Regions from separate parts of the Homo sapiens genome. Here regions 1, 2, 3, 4 and 5 are each linked to region 6. Evidence: fine-mapped expression QTL. A gene starts in region 6. Each other region holds a variant in brackets. All regions are shown on one strand. Distances are from middle to middle. Region 1 overlaps LINC03016 (long intergenic non-protein coding RNA 3016). Region 2 has its middle 39 kb from the start of C1GALT1. Region 3 overlaps C1GALT1 (core 1 synthase, glycoprotein-N-acetylgalactosamine 3-beta-galactosyltransferase 1). Region 4 overlaps C1GALT1 (core 1 synthase, glycoprotein-N-acetylgalactosamine 3-beta-galactosyltransferase 1). Region 5 has its middle 23 kb from the start of C1GALT1. Region 6 holds the start of C1GALT1 (core 1 synthase, glycoprotein-N-acetylgalactosamine 3-beta-galactosyltransferase 1).

Region 1 (5,205 bases), 84 kb after region 6:
ACATGATAGATGCTAACACTTCACCTGGAGATTGCTAAATACCAGCTGATAAGATTGAAGGCTGGATGAGAGCCTCTGGGGAAAGGGTTGCTGAACAGCAAAGTGGACAGACAGCTATGGTAGGCAGAATTTCTGAAAATGCCCTGAGGGACGTCCCATCCTAATCCTCAGAACCTGTGAAGATTGAGATATCACTTCTATGATTATGTTATAAGGTACAATTAACCTTAAAATAAGGAGATTGCCTGCACGGGCCTAGTGTAATCGCATAAGCCTGTAAAATTAGCTTTTCCAAAGAGGGGCAGAAGAGGAAGTTAAAGAGTTGCTGCTTTGAACATCGAGGGGACCATATGAGAAGGAATGTGGATGGCCTCTAGGAGCAGAGAGGACCCCAGCTGACATCCAGCAAGAAAGCAGGGACTTCAGTCTTAAAACCACAAGGGTGGAATTCTGCCAATATTCTCAATGAGCTTGGAAGTGGATTCTTACCCAAGCCTCCAGGGAAAAGCCCTGACAACACTTTGACTTTGGCCTGTGAGACTCTTGAGTATAGAACCCAACCTAGCCTGCCTGGAGTTGTAACCTACAAAAGCGTGAGATGATGAACTGGTGTCATTTTAAGCTGCTAAGTTTGTGGTAATTTGTTGCTGCAGCAATAGGGAACTAGTACAGTAGCCAAGACAAACAAGTCTACTTGTCACTATTTTTGAAAAAACACTTTCTTTGGAAGAAACTGGAATCTGCCTCTAAAACCATCTGGCATCTGGCATAAGGGGAAGGCGGACTGAGATCCAAAACTATTATGTGCCGGCTTGAGCTTCAACTTTATGTATACCAAACCATTTATACCTCACACCTACCCTCTGGGACGAACACTATTATTATCCCAGTGTTATCTCCATGGGCTTCTAACTGCTGTTCGGAGAAATTAAATGATTGGACCAGTAAGTTCTCAATCCCAGCTGTGCACCAGAATCACCGCATCACCTGAGTTTTGTTTATTTTGCTTTGTTTTGTTTTTAAGCTAATGAGCTTTTAGAGAGTCAGGATGCTGAGGCCTCAACCCTGACCCACTGAATCAGGGAGGCCCAGACCTCTTGCACTTATTAAAGCTCTTGGATGATTCTGATTTAACCCAGATGTTTGGCAACCAGTGGTATAAAGTGTGGTTAATGGACACCAGCATCAGTTGCCCTCAGGGTGGTGGTAACCGCTGATGTTGTGTCCCTAACAGCCATCCTCTGCTACTTCACTTACAGCAGGACCTCAGGTGTGCTCAGATGGCTACGTGCCTGGCCAGAGGGGGTTCTCAATTTTCAGCTCTAGTCATGTTATCACATTTCTCTTTCCCAATACCATCCTGTGAAGGTTAATTTCGTGGAGCAACTTGACTGGCCATGGGGTTCCCAGATTAAATATTATTTCCAAGCGTCTCTGTGAGAGTGTTCCCAAATAACATTAGCATTTGAATCAACAGACTTAGTAGGTTGCCCTCCCCGACATGGGTAGGCATCATCTAATCTACTGAGGGTCTCAATAGAACAAAAGGTGGAGGAAGGAGGAATTTGCCCTCTTTTTCCTGCCTCACCCCTTGACCTGGGTCATCTCATCATCTCTAGTCCTTAGACTGGGATTTACACCATCAACTCCTCTGGTTCTCAGGCCTTTGGACTTGGACTGAATTACACTGTCAGAGGCATTTGAACCAGAGTGACTCCATCTTGCATAGGGGCTAGGTAAAATAAGGCTGAGACCTGCTGGGCCGCATTCCCAGGAGGTTAGGTGTTCTAAGTCACAGGATAAGATAAGAGGTCAGCACAAGATACAGGTCATAAAGATCTTGCTGATAAAATAGGTCACAGTAAAGAAACTGGGCAAAACCGACCAGAACCAAGATGACGACAAGAGTGACCTCTGGTCGTCCTCACTGCTCATTATATGCCAATTATAATGCATTAGCATGCTAAAGACACTCCTACCAGGGACGTGACAGTTTATAGATGCCATGGCAATGTCAGGAATTCACCCTATATGGTCTAAAAAGGGGAGAAACCGTCAGTTCTGGGAATTGCCCACCCCTTTCCCAGAAAACTCATGAATAATCCATCCCTTGTTTAGCATATAATCAAGAAGCCACAATAAGTATAAGCAGCAGAGCAGCCCATGCTGCTGCTCTGCTTATGGAGTAGCCATTCTTTATTTCTTTACTTTCTTAATAACTTACTTGCTTTCACTTTACTCTATGGACTTGCCCCAAATTCTTTCTTGTGGGAGATCCAAGAACACTCTCTTGGGGTCTGGATCAGGACCCCTTTCTTATAACACCACCACCTGCTTTCTTGGGTCTCCAGCTTGCAGATGGCAGATTGTGGGACTTACTTCTTAGCCTTCATAACTGCATGAC[T/C]AATTTATCATATTAAATCTTATTTTCTTTATATATATCTCCATCCTACTGGTTTCTCTGGAGAACCCTAATACATTTCCCATCTCTCTGCAGCTAGAATCAGCCAGAAACATATAAGGAGACTCCACCAGGAGTGGGGAGTTCTTGGGAAAGCTTTTGCTTCTGAAAAAAGATAAAAGTACACAGGAGAGCTGTCTGGTGCCATTCCTTGAGCATGTGAGAGACTGTGTCACCGGGAGCAGCAGTTATCTGTGGCCATAAGTTGAGATGACTGGATGAAATGCTAACATGTTGAGAAGGTAGGACAAAAAGAAAGAACCAGGGACACTGATGACATTGTTGAGGTGCATCAACCCTAGAACCATTATTAAGAGATTTATTATGTGAAATATTATTATTTACTGTTTTACTACTTGTAGCTGAAAGCATTTCTAACTGTGTACAGGACTACTTTTAAACGCAAGAAAGAATTTCTGGTGTTGAGGACTGGGTTATTTGCATTAACAACCATCCAATTCTTTGTGCACTGAAGTCTAAGTCACCCACATTCTAGGGTCACCTACACAGATAGTGATGAAGCTGCTTCTAACTGGTCCATGTTTTTTCCACTCTATGATAGTAAAAACAAATAGAAAAACATCTGCATTCCTCCCTTTTTACACACTCCCTGCGGCAATATTGGTATTAGACATAGCAGAAAATAATAACTAAGAAAATAACTTGAAGAAAACATGTCTACAAGCTTTTTGTTAAGAAAAAAAAAAAAACCCAATCTTTAAAGCCCGTATTTATTATACAAATAAATCAGAAATAATAGGTATATGGGGAGAAATGGGAGAAGAGAAAGGAAAGCCAAGATAGTGCTCATTTTTCACATTAATTCCAAAGGACAAAGGATGGGATGGGAGCTCGGGGGTTTCTGAAAATGCTCACCACAATCAGTTTACACAACTTTTCAGAAATATGTTAACTCTGTATCAGAGCACACTTTAATAATCTAGATATATATAGAGACACAATCTGTTTGTCTAAAGAAGCTTCCAGATTTTCCATTTAGTGTGTCTTTTACCTTTACCATAACCCTGAGTCATCTCTGATAGTTCTCATTTTGGAAGTGATTCCATGCATAGAAAGTTGTGTGTGGGCTCCCTAAGGACAGTAGCTGGGTCCCTTTTGTTCATTGGCTTACCCATAGCCTGCAGCACAATGCTTTGAACATAGGTAGTATTCAACCAATGTCAACTACAAGATCCCAGAAGACCCAGAAGACCCCTTACCTTTAGGAATGTGTGTCTTGTGAGGCACCTGGGATATTATCGCTAGCTCATTTTCTCAGACAAAACACAGAACAGTGACATAGTTTTGTAAAGGTCACAGGGCTAAGCAGCTCTCTCCAAATTTAGTCCTGTGCACTTTTCCCCAGATTTATTCCCAACAATGCCTGCTACACTCTTTAAAAACCAGCCTCAGACACATCTGTTCTATGAAAATTACATGGAACAGAGAAGTAACTATTTCCTCTCAGTGAACAACATTCTGCCATTTAAAAGGAAAAAGTGAACTTTGTGGGTTCCTCTTGTATAATTAGGATTTAATTTCCTTCAGATGGAGATGTGTAACTGATATTGCATATTATATACTGCACAGTCACTAATATAGAGAGATTCAATATGCATTCACTATGACAATGCATCAAAGAACTTTTTTTTTTACCCTTTTATCTTCATATCCCAGTTTGCTTTGCAAAAAGAATTGGCATTTCATTAAATATATAAATAAATAAAAGACTATTTTTTCAAGATTCACTAAACAGGTGTTGCTTACCTTAAGGCAAAATTTTTATAAACTAAAAAAATTCAGTTTCTGTAACTGTTCCAACATGAAAAGGACTAGTTATTCACCTGAGAGGAAATGTCTTATAATGAAGACTTTTTATTGAATCTGGATTAGTCCCTTGCCCAACACTAATACTGACATTTTTCCTGCTGAGTTGCAAGTGGCAATTCACTTTTGGAAGAATTTATGGGAAAATATAACATTATTCTATTTCCCAACCACAAGTTTTGTTTATTCCTCACACTATATAGATGGTGAGTCTCAGAGAACTGGGGGCTTCTTTGCTCCTTGATGGGGAAACCCAGCTGTGTGCTTCACGCAGGGCTGTCCATAGCCTGCAGCACAAGGCTTTGAACATATGAGGGGGTGTTCAACCAATGGCAACTGCAAGATCCCAGAAGGCTCCTTACACTGTGGGGACTGACAGCCTCTTATTCCCCAGTAACTCCTGTGGTGTTTCCAGCTTCACTCTTACATTGGCAAGTAGGGATGGAACGCGCTGACTGCCGTGTGAATGAACTGTGTACCTTGTTACTTCAAACATTGAAACTCTGATATTAAATTTTTTTTTTTTTTTTTTTTTTTTTTTTTTTTCAGACGGAGTCTCGCTCTGTCACCCAGGCTGGAGTACAGTGGCGCGATCTTTGCTCACTGCAACCTCTGCCTCCCGGGTGCAAGCGATTCTACTGCCTCAGCCTCCTGAGTAGCTGGGATTACAGGCACATACCACCACACCCAGCTAATTTTTCTATTTTTAGTAGAGATGCGGTTTCACCATGTTGGTCAGGCTGGTCTCGAACTCCTGGCCTCGTGATCCACCTGCCTTGGCCTCCCAAAGTGCTGGGATTACAGGCATGAGCCACCTCACCCGGCCCATTAAATATTTTTTAATGTGAGAAGATATACTTATTATCATGAACATACAAGGGAGGGATTTGATCACAGCCGAGCATTGCGGACATGTG
Region 2 (5,205 bases), 40 kb before region 6:
AGGTTTTCTTCTAGGGTTTTTCTGGTTTTAGGTCTAACATTTAAGTCCTTAATCCATCTTGAATTAATTTTTGTATAAGGTGTAAGGAAGGGATCCAGTTTCAGCTTTCTACATATGGCTAGCCAGTTTTCCCAGCATCATTTATTAAATAGAGAATCCTTTCCCCATTTCTTGTTTTTGTCAGGTTTGTCAAAGATCAGATAGTTGTAGATGTGTGATGTTATTTCTGAGGCCTCTGTTCTGTTCCCTTGGTCTATATCTCTGTTGTGGTACCAGTACCATGATGTTTTCGTTAATGTAGCCTTGCAGTATAGTTTGAAGTCAGGTAGTGTGATGCCTCTAGCTTTGTTCTTTTGGCTTAGGATTGTCTTGGCGATGCGGGCTCTTTTTTGGTTCCATATGAACTTTAAAGTTTTTTCCAATTCTGTGAAGAAAGTCATTGGTAGGCTTGATGGGGATGGCATTGAATCTATAAATTACATTGGACAGCACATCCATTTTCACGATATTGATTCTTCCTATCCATGAGCATGGAATGTTCTTCCATTTGTTTGTGTCTTCTTTTATATTGCTGAGGAGTGGTTTCTAGTTCTCCTTGAAGAGGTCCTTCACATCCCTTGTAAGTTGGATTCCTAGGTATTTTATTCTCTTTGAAGCAATTGTGAATGGGAGTTCACTCATGATTTAGCTCTCTGTTTGTCTGTTATTGGTGTATAGGAATGCTTGTGATTTTTGCACATTGATTTTGTATCCTGAGACTTTGCTGAAGTTGCTTATCAGCTTAAGGAGATTTTGGGCTGAGAGAATGGGGGTTTCTAAATATACAATCATGTCATTTGCAAACAGGGACAATTTGACTTCCTCTTTTCCTAATTGAATACCCTTTTTTTCTTTCTCTTGCCTGATTGCCCTGGCCAGAACTTCCAACACTATGTTGAATAGGAGTGGTGAGAGAGGACATCCCTGTCTTGTGCCAATTTTCAAAGGGAATGCTTCCAGTTTTTGCCCATTCAGTGTGATATTGGCTGTGGGTTTGTCATAAATATCTCTTATTATTTTGAGATATGTTCCATCAATACCTAGTTTATTGAGAGTTTTTTTAGCATGAAGGGCTGTTGAATTTTGTCGAAGGCCTTTTCTGCATCTATTGAGATAATCATGTGGTTTTTGTCTTTGGTTCTGTTTATGTGATGGATTACGTTTATTAATTTGCATATGTTGAACCAGGCTTGCATCCCAGGGATGAAGCCAACTTGATCTTGGTGGATAAGCTTTTTGATGTGCTGCTGGATTCAGTTTGTCAGTATTTTATTGAGGATTTTCACATCGATGTTCATCAGGGATATTGGTCTAAAATTCTCTTTCTTTGTTGTGTCTCTGCCAGGCTTTGGTATCAGGATGATGCTGGCCTCATAAAATGAGTTAGGGAGGATTCCCTCTGTTTCTATTGATTGGAATAGTTTCAGCTCCTTTTTGTACCTCTGGTAGAATTCGGCAGTGAATCCATCTGGTCCTGGACTTGTTTTGGTTCATAGGCTATTAATTATTGCCTCAATTTCAGAGCCTGTTATTGGTCTATTCAGAGATTCAACTTCTTCCTGGTTTAGTCTTGGGAGGGTGTATGTGTCCAGGAATTTATCCATTTCTTCTAGATTTTCTAGTTTATTTGTGTAGAGGTGTTTATAATATTCTCTGATGGTAGTTTCTATTTCTGTGAGATCAGTGGTGATATCCCCATTATCACTTTTTATTGCCTCTATTTGATTCTTCTCTCTTCTTTATTAGTCTTGCTAGTGGTCTATTAATTTTGTTGATCTTTTCAAAAAACCAGCTCCTGGATTGATTGATTTTTTTGAGGAGTTTTTTCTCTCTCTATCTCCTTCAGTTCTGCTCTGATCTTACCTATTTTTTGACTTCTGCTAGCTTTTGAATTTGTTTGCTCTTGCTTCTCTAGTTCTTTTAACTGTGATGTTAGGGTGTCAATTTTAGATCTTTCCTGCTTTCTCTTATGGGCATTTAGTCCTATAAATTTCCCTCTACACACTGCTTTAAATGTGTCCCAGACATTCTGGTACGTTGTGTCTTTTTTCTCATTGGTTTCAAAGAACATCTTTATCTCTGCCTTCATTTCATTATTTACCCAGTAGTCATTCAGGAGCAGGTTGTTCAGTTTCCATGTAGTTGTGCGGTTTTGAGTGAGTTTCTTAATCCTGAGTTCTAATTTCATTGCACTGTGGTCTGAGAGACAGTTTGTTGTGACTTCTGTTCTTTTACATTTGCTGAGGAGTGCTTTACTTCCAACTATGTGGTAAGTTTTGGAATAAGTGTGATGTGGTGCTGAGAAGAATGTATATTCTGTTGATTTGGGGTGGAGAGTTCTGTAGATGTCTATTAGGTCCACTTGGTGCAGAGCTGAGTTCAAGTCCTGGATATCCCTGTTAACCTTCTGTCTCATTGATCTGTCTAATATTAACAGTGGGGTGTTAAAGTCTGCTATTATTATTGTGTGGGCATCTAAGTCTCTTTGTAGGTCTCTAAGGACTTGCTTTATGAATCTGGGTGCTCCTGTATTGGGTGCATATATATTTAGGATAGTTAGCTCTTCTTGTTGAATTGATCCCTTTACCATTATGTAATGGCCTTCTTTGTCTCTTTGGATCTTTGTTGGTTTAAAGTCTGTTTTATCGGAAACTAGGATTGCAACCCCTGCTTTTTTTTTTTTTTTTTTTTTTTTGCTTTCTTTTTGCTTGGTAGATC[T/C]TTCTCCATCCCTTTATTTTCAGCCTATGTGTGTCTCTGCATGTGAGATGGGTCTCCAGAATACAGCACGCTGATGGGTCTTGACTCTTTATCTAATTTGTCAGTCTGTGTCTTTTAATTGGAGAATTTAGCCCATTTACATTTAAGGTTAATATTGTTATGTGTGAATTTGATCCTGTCATTATGATGTTAGCTGGTTATTTTACCCATTAGTTGATGCAGTTTCTTCCTAGCATTGATGGTCTTTACAACTGGGCTTTTTTGCAGTGGCTGGTACTGGTTGTTCCTTTCCATGTTTAGTGCTTCCTTCAGGAGCTCTTGTAAGGAGGCCTAGTGATGACAAAATCTCTCAGCATTTGCTTGTGTGTAAAGGATTTTATTTCTCCTTCACTTATGAAGCTTAGTTTGGCTGGATATGAAATTCTGGATTGAAAATAGTTTTCTTTAAGAATGTAGAATATTGTCCCCCACTCTCTTTTGGCTTGTAGGGTTGCTGCCAAGAGATCTGCTGTTAGTCTGATGGGCTTCCCTTTGTGGGTAACCTGACCTTTCTCTCTGGCTGTCTTTAACATTTTTTCCTTCATTTCAACCTTGGTGAATCTGACAATTATGTGTCTTGGGGTTGCTCTTCTCAAGAAGTATCTTTGTGATGTTCTCTGTATTTCCTGTATTTGAATATTGGCCTGCCTTGCTAGGTTGGAGAAGTTCTCCTGGATAATATCCTGAAAAGTGTTTTCCAGCATGGTTCCATTCTCCCTGTCACTTTCAGGTACACCAATCAAACATAGATTTGGTCTTTTCACATAGTCCCATATTTCTTGGAGGCTTTTTTCATTTCTTTTTACTTGTTTTTCTCTAAACTTCTCTTCTCACTTCATTTCATTAATTTGATCTCAATCACTGATACCCTTTCATCCACTTGATCAAATCAACTACTGAAGCTTATGCCTACATCACATAGTTCTCGTGCCATTGTTTTCAGCTCCATCAGGTCATTTAAGGACTTCTCCATACTGTTTATTCTAGTTAGCCATTTGTCTAATCTTTTTTCAAGGTTTTTAGCTTCCTTGCAATGGGTTCAAGCATCCTCCTTTAGCTTGGAGAAGTTTGTTATTACCGACCTTCTGAAGCTTAATTCTGTAAATTCGTCAAAGTCATTCTCCATCCAGCTTTGTTCCATTGCTGGTGAGGAGCTGCGATCCTTTGGAGGAAAAGAGGTGCTCTGGTTTTTAGAATTTTCAGCTTTTCTGCTCTGGATTCTCCCCATCTTTGTGGTTTTATCTACCTTTGGTCTTTGATGATGGTGACCTACAAATGGGGTTTCGGTGCAGATGTCCTTTTTGTTGATGTTGATGCTATTCCTTTCTGTTTGTTAGTTTTCCTTCTAACAGTCACGTCCCTCAGCTGCACGTCTGTTGGAGTATGCTGGAGGTCCACTCCAGACCCTGTTTGCCTGGGTATCATCAGCAGAGGCCACAGAACAGCAATATTGCAGGACAGCAAATATTGCTGCCTGATCCTTCCTCTGGAAGCTTTGTCTGTGAGGGGCACTTGGCTGTATGAGGTGTCAGTCAGCCCTTACTGGGAGGTGTCTCCCAGTTAGGCTATACAGGGTTCAGGGACCCACTTGAGGATGCAGTCTGTCCATTCTCAGAGCTCAAACACTGTGCTGAGAGAAGCACTGCTCTCTTCAGAGCTGTCAGACAGGGACGTTTAAGTCTGCAGAAGTTTCTGCTGTCTTTTTTTCAGCTATGCCCTGCCCCAGAGGTGGAGTCTACAGAGGCAGGTAGGCCTTGTTGAGCTGCAGTGGGCTCCACCCAGTTCGAGCTTTCCAGCTGCTTTGTTTACCTATTCAATCCTCAGCAATGGTGGCTGCCCCTCCCCCAGCCAGGCTGCCTCCTTGCAGTTTCATCTCAGACTGCTGTGCTAGCAGTGAGCAAGGCTCTGTGGGTGTGGGACCCACTGAACCAGGCACAGGATATAATCTCCTGGTGTGCCATTTGCTAAGACCATTGGAAAAGTGCAGTATTTGGGTGGCAGTGTCCAATTTTCCCGGTAGAGTCTGTCACGGCTTCCCTTGGCTAGGAAAGGGAAATCCCCCAACCCCTTGTGCTTCCCAGGTGAGGTGATGCCCCGCTCTGCTTCGGCTCGCCTCTGTGGGCTGCACCCACTGTCCAACCAGTCCCAGTGAGATGAACCAGGTACCTCAGTTGGAAATGCAGAAATCACCCATCTTCTGCAACAATCATGCCGGGAGTTGCAGACTGGAGCTGTTCCTATTCAGCCATCTTCAATGTTTTCCTGACGTTCCCTCTGTTTTAATCTTCACAACAAAAAGTCACCTGCAGCCAGGTGCGGTGGCTCACACCTGTAATCCCAGCACTTTGGCAGGCTGAGGCAGGTGGATCACGAGGTCAGGAGATCGAGACCATCCTGGCTAACACGGTG
Region 3 (5,205 bases), 46 kb after region 6:
GTGCGAGAGTGGTGTGTGGAAAAACTAGTGAACTTTAAATGAAATGGGGGTGAAAATTCCAATTTACCATGTTGGCTGGCTGGTTTGGGTCCATTTAATTAACCTGTCTCATACTCAGTTTCTTCATCTGTAATATGAAAGGGATACTGCTATCGAGTTTTCAGGTTGCTGTGAGCATCAGAAAAAAACATAAAAATTTCTAACATGGTACCTCACATGTACTATATTTGTAAATGTAAGGTGTGTGACTGTAAGATTTATATCACTTTCATAAGGAAAATCTTTTGGGAAAATATAAAGATGTATCAAAAATTATTTTAATATGGTTAGAAGAGGGAATATATTTTGAATACATAAATGCAGCAAATGAATGCCATAATCCAGAGCAAAATTAGAAGTACCTGATTGTCACCTTGGCAAAATGTGGTATAAAGTGTTAAAATTTAAAAAAAAAAATAACTAGAATTTCAGGGCTTTATTGTGAATTACACTCACTGACTTCCCGAAAGCCTGAAAGGAAGAAGACGTGCGCTCATGGTAAAGGGCATTAAAATCTTGGTGAAAGAATATTCTTGAACTGGTGGAGTGGCTGAAAACCAAGCATAAGAGAAGAGGTTAAAGGCTGTATCCTCAGAATTCTCTGGCACCCATGTAAGAAGACCATGGAGTAATATTTACAAAGTTCTTAGGGAGAAGAAAGTTTGTGCAATAGCAGACATTCTGAAGCCTGCAAGAATTTCAGATGTGGCACCGATTAGCGCCATTAAAAAAAACTGCTTGCTGAAACCCAGCTAACAAAAACATGATATTAATGAAAAACTCAAATTTAGAGGAGTTGTGATTAAAAAGGACTCTTGTTGAGCATGGAATCTAGTTTAATGTAGATCCAGGATTAAGCAGTCATGGAATTACAGTTCATAATTCATATAATGTAAACTATGTACATTTTTACCAAATAAAAGCAGTTAACAAAAATTGGTTGTGGCAGAGGGAGTGTGTGTGTATGTATATGTGTATATATATATTTGTACATGTGTGTATCCATGCTGATTTCCACATTTCACAGCAAGAAATCAATAGATAGTGCCTAAAATTGAGCTTATTTAATGAGCCCTCCAACTCCTTTCTGTTTTTTTGTAAACTTTTCTTAATTTTTAGAGGGATCCTTTAGAGGATGGGGGTCATATTACAGATGTCTAGGTGACATTCAGATTTTTTAGATTCCTTTATTTCCTATAAATTCAAATAAATCTAATATGTTAATTCTTTAAAAACGAGATGACTAATATAATTCCCATTCTGTAAAACTGTAGGGTTATGGTTTGAATATTTGTCCCCTCTAAAACTCATGTTGAAATTTAATTCCCAGTTTGGCAATATTAACAAGGCCTTTAAGGAAGTGATTGGTTTATGAGACAGACCTCTGCCCTCATGAATGGTTTAATCCATTAATGGGTTAATAACTTAATGGGTTATCATGGGAAGGGAACTGTTTTGGCTTTATAAAGAAAGGGAAGGCCGGGCGCGGTGGCTCACGCCTGTAATCCCAGCACTTTGGGAGGCCGAGGCGGGCGGATCACGAGGTCGGGAGATCGAGACCATCCCGGCTAAAACGGTGAAACCCCGTCTCTACTAAAAACACAAAAAATTAGCCGGGCGTAGTGGCGGGCGCCTGTAGTCCCAGCTACTTGGGAGGCTGAGGCAGGAGAATGGCGTGAACCCGGGAGGCGGAGCTTGCAGTGAGCCGAGATCCCGCCACTGCACTCCAGCCTGGGCAACAGAGCGAGACTCCGTCTCAAAAAAAAAAAAAAAAGGGAAGAGGAACAAACCTAAGCTAACACGTTAGCATGCGTATCCCTCATGCCATGTGATGCTCTGTGCCACCTCAAGACTCTTCAGAGGAGAGTCCTCAACAGCAAGAAGGCTCTTACCAGATGTGCCCCCTTTGGCCTTGGACTTTCTAGCCTCCGTAACTGTAAGAAATAAATGCTTTCTCTTTATAAATTACCCAGTTTCAGTTGTTCTGTTATAAATACCAGAAAATGGACTAAGACATAATAGCAAAGTGGTTAAGAGTCTGAATTCCTGATTCAGATTGCTAGTGTGACTCTCTGTGTCTGAATTCATCTGTAAATGGGAATACTAGTCCGTACTTTATAGTTTGCAGATGCTCTTAGTACAGGGTTCAAATGTTAACTGTAATTACCTCTCCTATTTTTGTTATTGCTAGAGAGAAACCTGTAATGATAATCACAAAATATTAATAATTGTTGTTTCTGGGTAGTAGGACTTGTGATGATTTCTTCCTTCTAAATCCTTTTTTAACAATGAATAGCATAAAGCTGTCCCTTTAAAAATAAAATTAAAATATAAATTTTAGTTGTCCCGGGAGTTCTTTTGTATCTGAAACCTCAGTTGTCAAGCTTGGAAATCTGTACTTTTAAAATATCCTCAAGCGATTCTGATTACACATCAGGTTTGGAAGCACTTGGCATAAAGAACTTCCCCCACCCAATTCAAAGAAATAGTATTTAAGCCCTCATAATGTGCAGTGTGGTTAAGCTGTGTCTTTTTCCAGTCTAGTCTACCTCAACACTCTTGTGGACATGATTTTTGCCAAAAATCTGAGTGAGCTTTGGGATGCATTCTACCCCCATGAGATGGCTATTTTATCCCAGGAGCAGGAAAAAAAAAAATGGGAGTTTACAGTTATTTAGTCATAAGGCCGGAGTCCTTTAAATTGGAAGGGAATGTGGTAAACACAACACAAGAGGAGCCAACACATTCTGAGTGTGCTGATACTCTGGGGGAGAAGAGTAAGAGAGTATGACAGGCATCAGACAGCATCACAAAACATTTTAAAGTTAAAAACAATTACGTAACACCAAGAAGTCAGTTTTCCTTACATTCACTCCAGGATAGATGCCTTGCTTAAAAAGTGCCTCTTCAGCTAAGAAAAACTGTG[T/A]CCATAAGTACTTCAGTAGCTTTCCACAAACAGTAACTGTTTTTGTGTTATAGAAGTAGGCTTGTTCTGAAGCTCAGCATGTCCTTGGAATATGATTGAGTAGCATGTTAGTATTCATAGTTGATGGAGCTGGGTTAGCACTTCTTTAACTTCAGATATCCATATGATGATAGAAATAGGAATTTTCTCTGGTCCTGCAGTCCTTCCTCTTCTCAGTCACAGTGCTTTCTGCCTAAGTGGTACTGAATGGCATTGTGACTACTGCTTTCTTCTCCAGTGCCAGGAGCGGTAGACTCTGCAGCAGTAAAATACTGTCTTTGTTCTTTTCTGAGATGGTGAAGTGGCTGTGTATGGTATTAAGGCAAAATCACAGCTAGGACAAAAAGCAATGGAAAACCAAGATCAGTGTGCTGTAAGGCAAAGTGTTAGTGAGAGAATCAGAGGATGTAGAGAGTGACAACTCAGTATCTGCTAATGCTCCAGGTTCACTGCTTCAATCGTATTCTGCTTGTCTTCCTCCATAAGAAATTAAGAGTTAAAACATCTTTCATTTACTTCTCTTGGCTTCATGTTTTCAATTCATGGTACTTTCATATCACATACCTCTATTGTAGATTGTCTTGATCATGTATACTGCTAAAGGAAGGACTTGTATAATATCGAACAGATACTTGACTAATCAGTTCTCTCTGGCTGTTTGAATGAAATTTCAAACCAAGATTTCTGGTTAGAGCAAGGTCTAATGAACTGGTCCTCAGACAATCGAGATATTTAGAATTTCAGAACAATCACTTAAGACAGGAGGGATATGTTTTATTGTATCTTTTGGATATAAAGATTACACTAACGGCCAACCTGAATGAGGGAAAGGGGGCAGTAGGGAGGCAGAATTTGAGACCCCCTCATCAGAGAAAACAGCAGAAAGACATGGTAAACTTGTTTCTGGTTTTCCTGTGGCAAATTTGATTGGGTGTAGAGAGAAGGATCGTTGAGTGGGGCTATGTACTCATCATCCATGAAGGCCTACCTTTCTGAACTTGAAGGTACAGTCAGGATAGAGCAAAAGGTGTAAACATGTATCTGATAGTTTCAGATGGTTAATTTACATCTCAAGATACTGGGCAGCTTTGCTTATACTGTGCTGTTCCTTCACCTCTCCTCTTCCTCTTAGGGTTTTTCTTCCCAAACTGGAATTACAATTCAGGAGAGAGCCTGAAATATAAGATATATAATGCAGCATAAGCATGGTGTGTTGTCATGGCATGTCAATTTTACTTGTAGATTTTGGGATATTTTTATATCAAATATGAATATATTAAGTATGTACTTAATGGGATAAAGACACATGAATGGGTTTTTGTATACACTTTTTACTGAAATAAATGTTAATACAGAAAAGTATGTAAAATCATAAATGTAGAGCTTAATGAATGTCACAGAGAACAAGCCATGTAACTACTAGTTTTTTTTGTGGTATCAATAAGCTTTCCTTTAATTACTGTTTGTATGGTATATTTTTCTATTATTTTGCTTTCAACTTTATAAATCTATTTAATATGTGTCTCTTGTAAGCTGCATGTAGATGAGTTTATTTTTCTCGAGTCTGGCTGGCAATCTTTATTTTTTAATTGTAGTTTTTAGTCTATTTGCTTTTAATATAATCATTGATATGTTTGGTTCTAAATCAACCACCTTACTATTTATTTTCTATTTGTCTCATCTATTCTATATTCCCTTTTTTTTTTTTTTTTTAACATTGCCTTGATTTGGGGTATTTTCCCATTTCATTTTTTTGTATTTGAATTTAATTATATTGTTTTACTGTTTGTTTGTTTAAAGATTATATTAGACATCCTTGGTCTTTTAAAGGCTATTATTAATCAGTTTTTTTTTTTTAAACAACTCCTGGACAGTGAAATGACTTTAGAGCTCTTAAACTCTATGGATCCTCCTTATACTTTTTGATGCCAGTTTTGTAATTTGTTTTAATGGTAATAATACTAATATCTTGTGAGACTTTCAAAAAATGTTTTATTATAGCCAATATTTATTTGGATTTACTTACATACATACCCTTTTTATGACTCTCCCTTCCTTCCTACATCTCTGAATTTTTATCTGAAATTCTTTTCCTTCTGCCTGAAGAATTAGAAATAGAACTGTTAGTGATAAATTCACTTAGGTTTTGTTTTTCTGAACATGTTTTTAAGGCTCATTCTTGAAGGACATTTTTGCTGGAT
Region 4 (4,565 bases), 57 kb after region 6:
TATAAGCTCCTTATTTCTTTGCAAACCTGTAGTTTAAAGAGCACTGCTCTAGACCATCTTGGAATTCCCATGTCTACCATTGTTCTCTTCTGTTTTTGATTGGTGGATTTACATTTTGGAATGAGGTATGTGACTATCAGAAAGTAATCTCAACTCCTGTGCTTTGACCTTTTACCACCTCAGGGTACTTGTAGAAATTCTTAATAGTGGATTATTGTGAACTTCAAAAATGAACTGCCACTTCAGCAGCATGTCTTTCCTGCTCTTCAGAAACTCGTTCAGAGCAGTGAGAAATTTCTGTCAGTAATCTATTAAAAACTGGCTGCTTTCTTTTATGAAGTGCCAAGCAGAGACTATTTAAGGCAGCATTTAGCATGCCTATGAAGCACCAGGAGAACTTATTAAAATGCTGATTCTGAGTCAGTAGGTCTGGGCCTAAGATTATGCATTTCTAACAGGCTCCCAGGTGATGCTGCTGCTTTTAATCAGTAAACTACAGTTTGAGACGAATTTAGATTATAATGTCAACTCTTACTAGCTCCAGTGATGTCCTAGATAACACTGACATGAAACCAATAAATCAGAGTGTCAGTTCACATTAGGATGAGTTTGCTTTCCTTTGGCTAAATCACTAATAGAGGGATAAATAGGGACTTTGAAATTAGGACAGTGCTTTCTTCAGTATAATTTATTAATATTTGGATTTTACATCTATGTAAATAACCTTTTAAAATGTTTTGTTTAATAGATGAGAACACAGACATTGCTGAAAACCTCTATCAGAAAGTTAGAATTCTTTGCTGGGTTATGACCGGCCCTCAAAACCTAGAGAAAAAGGCCAAACACGTCAAAGCTACTTGGGCCCAGCGTTGTAACAAAGTGTTGTTTATGAGTTCAGAAGAAAATAAAGACTTCCCTGCTGTGGGACTGAAAACCAAAGAAGGCAGAGATCAACTATACTGGAAAACAATTAAAGCTTTTCAGTATGTTCATGAACATTATTTAGAAGATGCTGATTGGTTTTTGAAAGCAGATGATGACACGTATGTCATACTAGACAATTTGAGGTGGCTTCTTTCAAAATACGACCCTGAAGAACCCATTTACTTTGGGAGAAGATTTAAGCCTTATGTAAAGCAGGGCTACATGAGTGGAGGAGCAGGATATGTACTAAGCAAAGAAGCCTTGAAAAGATTTGTTGATGCATTTAAAACAGACAAGTGTACACATAGTTCCTCCATTGAAGACTTAGCACTGGGGAGATGCATGGAAATTATGAATGTAGAAGCAGGAGATTCCAGAGATACCATTGGAAAAGAAACTTTTCATCCCTTTGTGCCAGAACACCATTTAATTAAAGGTTATCTACCTAGAACGTTTTGGTACTGGAATTACAACTATTATCCTCCTGTAGAGGTAAGTTTAGAAATTTTATTACTATGTCAATACTTGGACTGACTGAATTTTGTTGATAAAAACATGTTAATATGTGTATGTTTCTTTAGTACCAACAACAAGGACTCTTCCTTAGTCTTTTTAAATAGAGTGGCAGTATAACAAAATAGATGAGAACAGGGACATCAGCAATCAGCAGTAGTCACTTAGCAAATAGCTATTGATGCTGTTATATGCCAGGCACTGAGAATGTAGAAGTAAATCACAGCCAATTTCCAGTTCTCGTGAACCTTACATTCTGGATGAGGAGATATACAGTAAACAGGCAGACTTGTAAATATAAAATAGGATTTTAGTAGTAAGTGCCCTGAAGAAAAATAAGCCAAGTAAGGGGATGGAGAGTGACCCAGAGTGGGATGGAGTCCTCTGGTTTGGGTGATTAAGAAGGCCTCTCAAAGAGGTGACTTTTGAGCAGAACCCTGAGTGTTATTAGAGAGCAAGTTGGGTGAAGATCTGGGTAAAGAGCCTTCTAGTCATCAGGAGGATTTAATGGAGGTTCAGAAAGACCTAGAGTCAAATCCTGCTCTCTCACTTAATAGCCGAACAACCTTGGATGGACAGGAGCCTTGGATGACATCTGAGCTTCAGTTTCCTCATTTGTAAGATGGACATAATGTACCTGTCTTATTTAGTTGTTGTAATTACAACATAGTACAGCCCTTCACACAGTAAGCATTTAATAAGCCTTGGCTCACATTCCTGAGAATTTTATCTAAAGTGCATTATTTTAGGAAGTATTCCAGTAGTACAAATATTTCAGAATATACATTGTACTTATCC[CCT/C]GTCTTTACCAAATATTAATCTTTTTGCCACATTTGTTTCAGTTATTTAAAGAAGAAAATGCTATAGTATTGTTTTTCAGATTTTTAAATAAATATCTTTCTACAACTTGCCCTTTTCACACAACATTGAGATTTATCAATGTTAATTACATGTCTGCTGTGTTCACTATTATAAGCATTGCTTCAGTGAATAACTGAATGAGACCAGGAATCATGGAACCTAGCTTTTAGGCTCAGTTCTGTTACTAATAATGCCTTTAGGCAAGTCACTAGTTCTCTATGCCTTCTTTTCTGTGGACCTAACGTATAAATAATACACTTCATGCTACTACTGTCATCTTCATAAGGCAATGCTTTCAAATCATCATCTGGAACAGTGATTCTCAACCCAGGGCAATTTTGCCCCCAGAGGACATTTGGCAAGGTCTGGAGACATTTTTGGTTGTTACAGCTAGGAGGCTGCTACTGGCATCTAATGGGTAGAAACCCACTACATTATAAACCTACTAAATGCTAAACATCCTAAAATGCACAGGACAGCCTCCTACAACAAAGAATTACTCTAGCCCAAAATGTCAGTAGTACCATGGTTCAGAGACCCTGGCCTAGAACATCTGACCCAAGCTTTAGGTAATCAGCTTTAAAAGGAAACTTTTGATAGTCTGTTTTTCTATTTTAGTGAGAGTACTACTTTGGATGCTTTTTTGATGTAAACTTTTCTTAATATATTTTGACCATTCCAAGATGACTTGATCTTTTTTCCTTAATTCTGTATCCTTTTCCCATATAAAAAATTTACCCAAATTCAAGAATATAAACATGTAGCAAATACATCCAAATGCATATAAGATCTTACTAAGAGTATCTGATGTTGGATACACATACAGTAGTAGCAAAGGGACATCATAATTGGCAAATTTGTTCTTTCTCTAGAAATTTATCAAATTATGTTGAAGACCATAAAACAGAATTAGAATTCAGAGTACCAAAATTGACCCATCAATCTGACATTGCCTGTTCTCCCTCAGGAGATTCTTACATAAACCCAACGTGAAACTAAAATTCTATTATTATCCATCTATCATTTAGTAAGTTTTCTTCCCCCTAAATGAGTTTAAATCTTATACATACTTTTTTTTTCTATATACTAATTACTGAAAATACAGAAAATTTTTATCTAGCAAGTCAGGGTAAAAGATATTCTAATTCATGAAAGAGTTACATTCCTAAATTTCTTGTTCAGAACTGACTCTTAAGCAGTTCCCTTCCCACTCCACCTTCTTAGTAATAGACTTTTCACCAGAGAAGTTGCAGTGAGTCTTAATATGGTAGATTTAAAATATATGTGTAATTGTTTACATATATATCTCTCTACATGAAAAATTGACTTTTCTGTAGGTCAGAAATGGTCAAATATGATCTACTTTATTCAGTTTTATTTACATTATTCTATCTGAAACATATTAGTACATAAGTGAGGTAGAGAGCTCCTGATTTTTTTAAATTGTTAACTAATTATTCTACTACCATTTTTTAACTCATTACTGATTTAAAATGTCCCCCTTATCATACACTGTAACCTTACTTATAGTAGGATCTAAATCTGGGATTTCATTTCTATGCCATTGTTCTCATTTGATTTTGGCCCAGCACCATATTGTTTTGAACCTTGTAGCTTTACAGCAGTTTTAAGTTACTATTCTAAGGGCAAATTAACTCTTCTTTTTTTCTAAGTGTTTTGGCAACTCATTTCTTTATCTTTGCATACAAACTCATTAATTTAGGGACAATAACATCTTTGCCCAGGATTTTTTGTAAGTCACCTTTTAGGTCCTTTGGTCAAGTTTTATAAACTATTTCCATAGGTATGCAATATTTTTGTTACTGTTCTACTTGGGCTTTTAAAGACTTAACTTTTTACTGATATATATGAAAACTTATTTGTTTGATTTTCTTTTTAAGCATCTTTAAAATCTGGCTTTGTAACTGAATTCTCTATTTCTGATGATTCTTCACTTGAGATTCTTGAGTTTTTTTGGGTAACCATAATTGTCTGCTAGCTCTTGTTTTCTAATAATTATAGCTTTTTACTTTTATTGTCTTTTATTGCATAAATGCTTAACAGAATCCTGGCCATCCAGTAAAATATAAATAAATAAGAGCAATATAATTAATGCAGTAAATCTTATCAAAAATATTATTTTACAGAATATAAAAATTGCTTCCAGAGGTCAGCAATTTATAACTATTACTGGTCTAGTCCTTAAGTTTAATATGCACTGGACAGTATAGTAGCCACTAAGTATGTGTGGTTATTGAGCACTTGAA
Region 5 (5,205 bases), 24 kb before region 6:
TGCTTCCATTAATTTTGTTATATTATTTAGTTTTCATTTTTTTAAATTATGTCTTTTCTGGTACATATTAACTACCCATTTTTTCATTATTTAGTTTATTTTCTTTATAATAGTGTACTTGTTTTGTGTTCGACCATCTCCTTTCTGTTGCTTTTGTATAAACAAAATCAGGTGTTCTGTACTTTTAGGAAATGCCTCCCTTGAAGGGAAATGGGATATGCTATGATAGCCTTTATAGTTTCAGTGCTTAAGAGATTCCTCCCCTATTATTATCACATAGCAGACAGATTAAGATACACATGTAGACGTGGATGGCCTTTGTGTCGTCACACCCACTTCCAGAGATGTGCCTTCTCTGGAGACCCACCTGACCTCCCAGTGTTTGATCTTTTTCTCTCAACAAACAACAAAGGCATTGTAAGGTCGTCAAAATATTGGATTTACTCTCAGAGTTTCTATCCTGCTCAATTTGAATTTTCTTCACGGAAGTGTTTTCCTCAGGAAAGATATTTTATTGGCTATTTCTGAGTTATTTGAGTACATAAGCCACCCAGTACCTTCTGATCTTCCCATTTTCTCTTAGTGTGTGGCTGAGATATTTTTATTCTACTCAGCCATAAATTGGAGTCAGAAGCCTTCTCCTTTTTACTGTTATTTTCACAATATTTACTTGCTGAGAATCCCACTCAAGGTAAGACCTTCTCTTTTTGAGTATTTGTGGACAATTTCTGTATTGCAGTGTTCGCAGAACCTTCTAAACTCTTGTTCTCTCCTGTCCACTGCCTCTGCACAGCTGCTAAAACTAGGCATGCTCTGTATGAGTTCTACTGCTGTTGTCTGTGGTTTGGGTGGGGCAAAACCCACTGGCATTCTGAGGCTCATGGGGATGTTTTTTCAGTTGGCTTTCTGGAGGATGTGGTGAGTAGAACTTATCTTTTGCTATTCTAGTTGGTTCAGTATGCTTTTAGGAATGGATTTGGGGAAATTAAGAAACTGTACACCATAACCTTGCCCTGACTTGAAGTCAAGATGGGTTTATTTTTAAATCATGAATCTATCAATCAAGGCACTGATTCCGTGTTGCTCTACTGTCTTGACTGGCTTCTAAGATTATATTTATTTCAATATAGTTTCTGTTCAACTTAGTTAGGTGTCTATTAGCTTCCCTAAAGATACTCTTTTGAAGTATAATCAACCTCTATCTCACAGTTGCCAACATTCTTATATTGCTTTCATTTTCTTTACCACCAAACTTCAAATTTCAGTTTCTTCATTAGCTAGCCTCAGTAAGGGTATGTACATGTACATTCTGAACAATTCCTTCAATCAATGAGATCTCTTTTCCTTTAAAATCAGACTTTATTTGAGAACTGTCTTTTTGCTAAAATTGCTGTATTTTCCTCCCAGGCATGTTTCAAATTGTTCTTTATATTTCAGGAACCTCAGTCAGAATGCCTCCTTTAATGTTCAGATAACTTGCTAAATCAAAAGTAGTTTCCTCAAGTTGCTGTTGCATTAACTTAGCAGTACATTCCTTTCACATGAAAATTGGTGTATTCAAGCCTGTTACCCTCACATGACCACAGCTGAAATATTTCTCTGATGAATACAGTAAAATTACTATATCCCTCTGAAGTTTTGTAGAGTCCACTCTAGTCTTTAGAACCTGTTAGAATGTCCCTTCCTTTCTGCTAAAGAAAAGAAATTAAATGGGAGGTTAGGGTGGGGTTAGGAAGAGTGGTCTCTAGTCTCCAGTGATCTACTGCAGGGCTCTATACCTGACTCTGTTCTGTCTAATTCAATCAGCATTCCAGTATTCCATTAACACCTCCTATGTGCTGAGTTTTATGTTGAATAGAAAGGAAAAATAAGTCTCCAAGAAGGCATTGGAGTTTGATGTGGACTCAAATTCTGATTCTACTGTTCACTAGCACGTGGCCCGAGTCAGCTGTTTGATCTCTCTGAGTCTTAATTTCCATATCTGAGTATAACGATTCCTATATAACATAGCTATTGTAAACACTTAGTATGTTTTTTCATTATATTTTACATATTATATACACATACATTTTTATATATTTATATATTATATAAACATTTGTATAAATGTACAGGTATATACACATGTATCTATTTATATATGTATGCATGTATATGTATATATACATATATATTTCATCTATAATTTTATAAAAGCTGTATCATGTAGGACTCATATACGCATATATGACATGTAATAGGTGGTCAAATAAGTGTTTGTTCCTTTTGGATAATGTTATGACCTACTTGTAATTAGATAACATTTCTTTCCCTTTTTGCCTACCCAAACACACAAAATGGCTGTTAGACGGCCTATTGATTTTCTTAATGAATTAAAATTAACTGTGTTTTAAGGCATTCTATCTCAAACTGTGTGACATTTGTGAAATATATTGAGACAACGAGCAGGGTTCTTGATCTGAGGGCGGTCATAAACTATTAAGGGGTTCAGGGAGTTTTTGAATCTTCTGAAATTATATGCAAATAGGGCATGTTTGTGACTTATGCATTTTTGGAGTGAAGCAATTCATTGCTATCACCAGATTTTTAATGGGACTTAGAAACAGGAAAAAAAAGTCAAGAATCATGAAGGTGTTATAAAATCACAGCTGGGACTCAAATGATTGTATGCTTTTGGAGGTCAGAAACTGTCTATGTAATTTTCTTTTTACAATGCTTGGCACAGAGCCAGAAAGAGTTAAGTACTTAATTTTTATTTTTGAACGACTGTAATATTGACCACCTTTTCTCTACTAGGAGGGTCAGATATAAAAAGTAGAACTAAAAAATAAAAAGGAAGAGATTGGAAAGACGC[G/A]GGACAAATACCAAGAGCAGTAAAAGACTAGGAAGCAAAGAAAAAGAAGGAAAGAAAGAAAACAGGAAGAGGAGGGGGAGGAGGAAATAGAGTGGAACAGAAATAGAAATGCAAAGCGGAAGAGAAAGAGAAAGGAAAGAAAGTGGTGTGTTGGACTGCGCTGATTTGTTTCCTTCCTTCTTGTCCCCTTTCCCCAATAATCTCTTCAAGGCAAAAGGTTCCCCAGAGGCTCAATAGAAACAGGACTCTTACAGACTAAATGAAGGTGTATGAATTCTAATTTTCGCTTAATTTGATAGTAATGCCTTTGGAAAGTCACTATTTTTACACGTAGATTTTCTTTATCTGCAATCTTTAGATAATGTTAGCAAAGTTAAAAAAATTCTCTGTCTCCATGTAAGCTATATTCAAAAAATTCATTTTAATGTGATTCAATTCAAAGAGGGCATTTTCCTATAGAAACACTGTTACACAGAGTATCACTACAGTTCATAAAAACATACTTAACATGTAATGGAAGAAAAGGGAACTGGCCTTTCAGCTATCAGCTCCGAGCTTGGTAAACTGGAGCACAGCATCTCTTTTCATTTCCTTTCTCACATCCTAGGGAGCTTTGCACCAATCCATGTTCATAAATTGAGGGATATGTCTGCACTTCAAAGATCAATGGCAGCAACACTGTGAACGGCTGTTCATACATAAGTAAAACTAGTTAAATTTCCTGATTCTTACTCTTTCCCTCAGCTCTTTCCTGCCCCACATGTGTGTCCTTCTTGTCCCTAGTACCTTTCCACATTTTATATTGGGTACACGTTCCAATAGCCTCATGGAACTAGAGATCTGTTTCTTCTCAACTCTGGAAAATTCTTTCTATTCCATTTCTGCATATGACCTTTACCTTCCATCTAGATCTTTTTGGTCTTCAACTGTATAGAGTGTTATTTCTCTCTTGAACCTCCACCTTCTACCTCCAACCCCTAATCCCTGCCATTTGACTAATCAGGTATATCCTTGACAAAAGTCTGATGTACAAGGGGACAGATAATGTTACCTTGATTGACAGTGTTCTAATACATATATTAAGCAGTTGATGTAGAACAGGCGGGAAGACAAAATGTTACCCTGTTTCTCATGAGAAAGGAGGCTACACTGCTCTTCTTAGGAAGTAGGAAGATAGATGCAGAGACAGATATTTAGAAGGGGAGGAAAATAAAAATTGTCTATGTGTCTGCTAACCTAAATCCATTCAGTAAAAGAGAAGTCAAGTTCAGTTCAAGACAGAAGTAAGGTTGGTTCCAAAGGATGGACACATACATGCAACTCATTCCTGGGTACACAAAAGATGAAATAGAGGGCGTGTGTCGAAGTACATGTCCAAAGGTATGAAGTAGCTGCAGGAATTTTATCAGAGAAACCAGTCCCCAGGACTAATGTTAACAGATGACAGAGGGAAAGCTGTCTGAATTATTTGCCAGTAGACTACTGGTCAAGAGGACTTGGAACTATAGCTGAAAAAAACCTTAGAACTATACACACAAACACAGTACTAATCAGCAGAAGTAATGAGTATTGAGAGAAAACAATGAGCCATAATTTACAATCAACTTAAATAGAATTTATGCAACTGAAATCTAAGACAGAATAATAGGCAGTAACTTCCAGTTTATAATAATGACTACTTGTGTAGTCATTACTACACAAAATTACTGACTACTTGTGTACTGACATGTATTTTGCACAATGATATGACAGACTAAGACAAACTGAATAGTTTGCAAGTAAACTACTTGTCAAGAGGACTTGGAACCATAGCTCTATTGACATGTAACCATCCTTACCAAAGACAGACTCAAATTCTCAGAAACGTTTGCTTCTATTTTGGGGAGATCATCCAAATCTATAAACTTGTGAGGCTTTAACAGTGGGAAAAAAAACCTTACAACTCACTTAGTCTAACTTCTTTACTTTAAAGGTAATTGCCCCTTGGATGAAAATCACTAACATTTTAGTATAAACATATTTACAGTGAATAACTTTACATTTGCTAGCCAAAATTTGTTGCCAAGGGACTAAAAAATGTGGCAATAAATGAAGTACTTGTTAAAAAGATACTTAGTTTTAAAATTTTTGTCAGTCCACTTTTTATTATAAGAGTTGCTGATAAAAATAACTACCATTTATTGAATACTTACTACATGTTAGACCCTTTGCAAACATCCTCCCCTTTAACCAGCACAACCACTAGAAAAGACAGGCATCATCATCTTCCTTTTACAAAGTTGAGGACCATGAGGCTCAGAAAATAGTAGATAGTAGTTAGTAAATAGTAGAGCCAGGATTAAAATACATGT
Region 6 (5,205 bases):
CAAAGTAACCACAATTTTTATTCTCTAATTGAAAATGTCGAAGAATTGGCTGACATTAATGTCACTTCTAGGAATGTGTTCAAGGAGATAATTGCACAATTGTGCAAAAGCCTATGGATAAGAATGTTCATCAGAGACTTTTTTTATGGTAGTAAAAACTTGGAAACATAAATGTCAATCAATAGAATACTGGTTGGATAAATGATGGTATATCCATTTAACAGACAGTATGCAACTTTTAAAAATGATGTTATTCATGACTGTTGTTCACTGTGCAGATAATACGATCCAATTTATGAAATATTGTATTTATATGTCTATATGTGCTTTTATTCTTAGAGAGATGCCTAGAAGAATGTAACACAAAATTTAAGAAATGGTTATCTCTATATTATGGTATTTGGACAGATTTTAACTTCTTTGCATTTTTGTTTAAATTTTTTAAATTTGTTTGCATAAGCATGTATTGTTTTTATAAAACAATAGTTATTAGCTGGGTGCCACAGCCTGTGCCTGTAATCCCAACTACTGGGGAGGCTAAGGCGGGAAGATTGCTTCAGCCTTCAGCCCAGTTATTCGAGGCTGTTGTGTGCCAAGATCACACCTGTGAATAGCCACTGCATTCCAGCCTGGGCAACATAGAAAGACCATATCTCTTCAAAAAAAAAAAAAAGCTATTTTCAAAGAAAGGCAGGGTGGGGGCAGGGCTGATTTGGTCCAGTATTGTTTCTAGCAAGTAATTTTCCAGGATAAGGCTGTGGCTGACCTTATTTTAGGAAAGGGTTCTAATCTTTGCTCAATGGAAAAAAGTGTTATTCTTTATTAATTATAACTTTTAATAAAATTAAAACGAGATAAGGAGTTGTGAGTTTTGGTTTCTATTTGGAACACTGACCCCTGAAAGAGTTCTCCTTCCATGTTTCACAATGGATGGCAAGACATTGCGGAAAGGTGGAAGGATGTTGCGGAAAGGTGGAAGGATATTGCGGAAAGGTGGAAGGATATTGCGGAAAGGTGGAGGGGGAGGAGGCTGAGCAACAACTGTATACAAGTTGGGGAGGAGTAGAGAATGGACGTAATCATGTAAGGCAGAGAAGTCTGGACCCATGAGCCAAGGAAAGAGCAATAACCTGGACATCAGGATAGCTGCACTTCTCTTCTAACATGGACCTATCAGTTTATCTTTCTGGCCTTAGTTTTGTCATCTGAAAAATGAGACATCTGTATTAGAATCACTACATGTGCTTTATGTTTCACAATTCTTTTGGATATATTGATGCAATGTCCTGAGAAACTACACTACAGCTGAACCTAAGCAAATTAAAGGAAAAATAACAATAACTAATGTATATTATTATTTGTCTCAGGCATTCTAAGTAACTTGCCAATAGGTGGAGGGACCAAGATGCCAGCCCGGGCAGTCTGATTTCAGAGCCCATACTCTTTAACAACCATGCTGTAGAGTACTAAAGAACCGCTTGGATAGGGCATTTAAAGGAAGCAGGGTAGCTTTCCTATTCTGGAACGTGGTCTTGTAGATAATGGTTAACGCCAGTAAAGACTAAACCTTACCCTCACCTCATGACTATTGTGGGGTTGCCTCAACAGGTGGCAGCCTCCTCCCCCTATTCCAAAGACAACTTCCTTATTCAGAGCCCAGCGAAAGGGGAGATAGGTTTTGTTACGCCCCTAAGAAGCTCTTCCGGCCATTGCCCCACAGAACCGAAGTGCTGACAGAACCAAAGACGAAATGTGCCTATAGAAAGCTTTCTGGTATCATTATCTCGGTTCTCAGCTCTTCCTGGTTCTCACATGATGACCCAGCACCCGTATGCATACTTCATCTTATTACTTCCTTTTATTAAGCCCAGAGAGATACTGAGTAAAGAGAGCACGGGGAGAGAACAGAAAAACAAATGAACGGGTTAAGAGCAGGCTACAGGCCACAAGAGTCCTGCAGGGTTAGAGCCTGTACCTCAGACAAAGGTCCTTCAAGCATCCCCTTTCTCGCTCCCTATTGTTACCCTGCTTTCGTCCCGCTCAAGGTCTTGAAGCTAGTGCATAACCTTACAGCAGGATCAGAAATGCGGAGAGTAGCAGACACAAGCCGCAAGGGGGATACAACAAAATCTACTGCTCGTGCAAGATCCGACTTCCCAGACCCCTTCGCATTAGGGCGGAGCGTGCACCCGGCAGCCAATCCCCGCTTCCTCACGTCGCCGTATCCCCGCCCACCGCCCCTCCCGCTCCGCCCTTCCCTGGGGCTGGTGCGGCGGCGGAGACGTCAGCGCCAGGAGACTTCGGGTGGCGGCTGCGCCATAGGCGGGCCACGGCCTGGACGCGCTGCGGGGAGGGGCGGAGCGAGCGGGCGGGAGCGCGCGCTGGGCCCGCCTTGGCCGCCGCCGCTGTGCTGCCGCTGCCGGGGAATAATCTGGGCGGCAGCGGGCGGCCTCGGCTAGCGGCCACGAGCCACTTCTGCGGCTGCCCAGAGAAGCAAAGGTCACCAGTCCCAAGTCGTCCCCCTCTCCGCCCCCCAGGAGGGGCGAGAGGGAGCCGCAGCTGATGTCAGGTATGGCCGGCGGAGGCGCCCTCAGGCTACGGGTCCAAGGTCTCGTCTCCCCTCGCCCTCCCCCCTCTCCGGGTTGGTGGGGAAGCGTGGAGGATGGAACCAAACCCCGGGCGCGGCGGAACAGGTGTCTCGGGGTCAAAGCCGGGCTGGGGTCGTCCGGGCTCCTGAGGAAGGCGCGAGGACTTCCCGCTCCCGGAGCCTTAGCGATCTGCCACAGCGTTCGGCTGCGTACCCGGCCTCAATTTTGTGGACATGTACCCTCCTCTTCGTCGTGGGTCCTTCCCTTGTGCCCGCTCGCGCCCCTCTTCTGCTCGCGCGCTGCCTGGCGGCGCGGCGGGGCGCGCAGTGCGCCCGGACCGGACCACTTAGCGGTCCTGCCCCGCCGGGCCCTCCCAGTCCCTCCTCCCGGGCCCTCCCCGCCCCGCCGCAGACCTGTGGGTCCCGCCGGACTGGGCGCCCAGGTGTTGGGCACCTTCGCCGGGGAGCCACTCGGCTGCCGCGCCGCCTGAGCGCCCAGCGAGCGGGCTCCTTCCAGAGGTGCCTGGAGCTTGCTTGGGTCTAGCTTGGATCATCAGGTTTGTCTGTAGCTGATTTATTTCTTTAAGTTTCCCTGCCGCAGAGTGAAGCAGATACGTGTGTGTTGGGGCATTCGGGGCATGGAGGAGGAAGAAAGGCATTAAATTTTTTTTTTTTGCTTCTGCACCCCATTTTTCCCCAACAAATTGTGATGGAATTAGTAGGTGTTGACAAGTTGTCCATTTGCTTTGAATTTGGGTAAGTCGTACACTCTTAAAAGATGACCATAATTTAGCGCTGTGGATTTATTCTTTCCTGGTCCTTACCGTCTCCCCACCCCCCACCACCCCGCATTTAAAGCAAACAACAGTATCAGCAACAAAAAACCCACACATCCTGGAAAAATTCTCAAGATTTCTAACCTAGTTCTCTATATCCATTGTACATACTACTGTATTTCCTTTTAACGCTTTTTTAAGATAGAAAACTATTGTGCTAACCATGGATTGATTTCATTATGAATTTAAAAGTTATAAATTTAGAACCATAATGAATCAATGAATAATTGGCCGATGTGTAAGGGAGAGAAATATGTTAACTTACTAAAAGTTGGGCATAGAACATAGCTCTGCCAGGAAAAAGTGCGCATAATTTCAAGTTGCTTCATTCTGGTGTGAGTTTGGGAAGTTGGAATCCGAGTTTTTAGAAGGTATTTAGATGACAGCTTTTCACCCTCTTAGGTAAATGGCAGTTGAGCTTAATGCCCATGATGCTGTATGTTCTAAATATTGTATATAGTACACTATACTTTCTACCAGTCTTTATATATAGATGTACAGTTTAAGTGAATATAAAGTTTCAAGTTAGCAAACAGTTAACTCTTCACCTTATGGTAAGTGAAACAATGACTTAGTAAGGAAAGTATGACTCATTTAAAATTCTTCATAAAGAGAATAATTTTTCAGTATTAGTGGAGAGCTACTAAATGCCTCTCAAATTTGCCTGGAATGTGTATTTTTTTGTATCTTCCTACTTAGGATTAAGCATTTTAGAAATATTTTGTGTTTCCTATTTAAAGTTTTTCATAATTATGCTTTTTAAGACTAGACTACGTTGAGTAAATTCAATATCCAGTTATTCTTAAAATTGTATCACAAATTTATTTCAGGGTACACATAATGAGTTCTTGTTTACCTAATAGAAATATGAAAAAGTATGTCACTAGGCACATGCTACTATTTGTGTATTGATTTGTGCTAAAATTAAAATTGCATTATGCAGTTTAACATTATAAGCCATGGTAATTTAGAGTCTTTGTGTGGTAAAATCATTGATTGGAATTTTTGTGACAGTGCAGCTATAAATAAACCTTAAGTAGAAAATGGAAAGCTTGATGCTGAAATTAAATTCAGATAGGCTTAAAAGTTTAAGCTTCCCAATACAACCATCTTTTCTTTTAGAAGATTTCTTAAGATTTGATTAAAGACGCTGATGTACAAACTATAGCAAGGCTGAAAGAAAGGTATGACAAAAATCTTTTTACTTCAAATTCAGTGGGATTAAGTCATTCTTTTAAAAGAAGAAAGGTGGGGAGCGGGAAGGAGACTTGTTCCATAAAATGAGAAGTTAGCCTTTTATCTTAAAATCTGGTTAGAGAGGAACTCCAATGTGTACTTAAATTATTTTGCAGCTAATTCAAATGTCCAAGGGGAATATATATGCCAAAATCTGTAATATGTGAGAATAGGAAGAGGGAGAAAAAAAATATATAAAGAAACTGGTGTTTGTGATTTAGGGAAGCACATAAGAAGGTGGGGGAAACTGAAAGGAAAGTCTAAATAAATTATCTAGCACCTGTAGTATGTGCTGCCTTGCACATTGAAGGGGCGTGTTGGGGGCAACGAGAGGCAATATTAGGGAGATTCTGGAATGGGAAACCTGTATATTAAAGCACATTTAAACGGCTAGATGTTGGATAATAGGCAGAATTTGAAATTAAATACAGCTTGGCATAGTTATTTGCATTCTTGGTCATTGTATTTTCTAGGGCTGCGGTAACAAAATACGACAAACTGGGTGATTTAAAACAACAGATTTATTGTCTCAGTTCTGGAGGCAAG

Evidence for each region. PIP is the estimated chance that this variant, and not a neighbour inherited with it, causes the effect.
Region 1: its variant is the best candidate, but not a certain one, in a credible set for the expression of C1GALT1 in whole blood (INTERVAL, PIP 0.57).
Region 2: its variant is the best candidate, but not a certain one, in a credible set for the expression of C1GALT1 in testis (GTEx, PIP 0.53).
Region 3: its variant is the best candidate, but not a certain one, in a credible set for the expression of C1GALT1 in whole blood (INTERVAL, PIP 0.69).
Region 4: its variant is the best candidate, but not a certain one, in a credible set for the expression of C1GALT1 in anterior cingulate cortex (GTEx, PIP 0.72).
Region 5: its variant is the best candidate, but not a certain one, in a credible set for the expression of C1GALT1 in T cells (TOPMed, PIP 0.71).

The regions. Positions count from the first base shown.
Region 1 is chr7:7,264,740-7,269,944 of GRCh38, forward strand. LINC03016 (long intergenic non-protein coding RNA 3016) reads left to right here. Exons shown (of 4, transcript NR_108073.1): 3 at 2,498-2,703. Among named protein-coding and RNA genes, the nearest start is that of LINC03016, 12 kb to the left of the region's middle. The variant T/C (reference allele first, on the strand shown) is at 2,405.
Region 2 is chr7:7,140,700-7,145,904 of GRCh38, forward strand. No RefSeq gene overlaps it. Among named protein-coding and RNA genes, the nearest start is that of C1GALT1, 39 kb to the right of the region's middle. The variant T/C (reference allele first, on the strand shown) is at 2,758.
Region 3 is chr7:7,225,923-7,231,127 of GRCh38, forward strand. The region is part of intron 1 of C1GALT1 (core 1 synthase, glycoprotein-N-acetylgalactosamine 3-beta-galactosyltransferase 1); the gene reads left to right. Among named protein-coding and RNA genes, the nearest start is that of LINC03016, 27 kb to the right of the region's middle. The variant T/A (reference allele first, on the strand shown) is at 2,966.
Region 4 is chr7:7,237,507-7,242,071 of GRCh38, forward strand. It overlaps C1GALT1 (core 1 synthase, glycoprotein-N-acetylgalactosamine 3-beta-galactosyltransferase 1), which reads left to right. Exons shown (of 4, transcript NM_020156.5): 3 at 749-1,416. Among named protein-coding and RNA genes, the nearest start is that of LINC03016, 15 kb to the right of the region's middle. The variant CCT/C (reference allele first, on the strand shown) is at 2,236.
Region 5 is chr7:7,156,509-7,161,713 of GRCh38, forward strand. It overlaps a transcript of C1GALT1 not described here. Among named protein-coding and RNA genes, the nearest start is that of C1GALT1, 23 kb to the right of the region's middle. The variant G/A (reference allele first, on the strand shown) is at 2,855.
Region 6 is chr7:7,180,252-7,185,456 of GRCh38, forward strand. C1GALT1 (core 1 synthase, glycoprotein-N-acetylgalactosamine 3-beta-galactosyltransferase 1) reads left to right here and starts at 2,293. Exons shown (of 4, transcript NM_020156.5): 1 at 2,293-2,569. RefSeq lists silencers at 2,033-2,642, 2,863-3,082.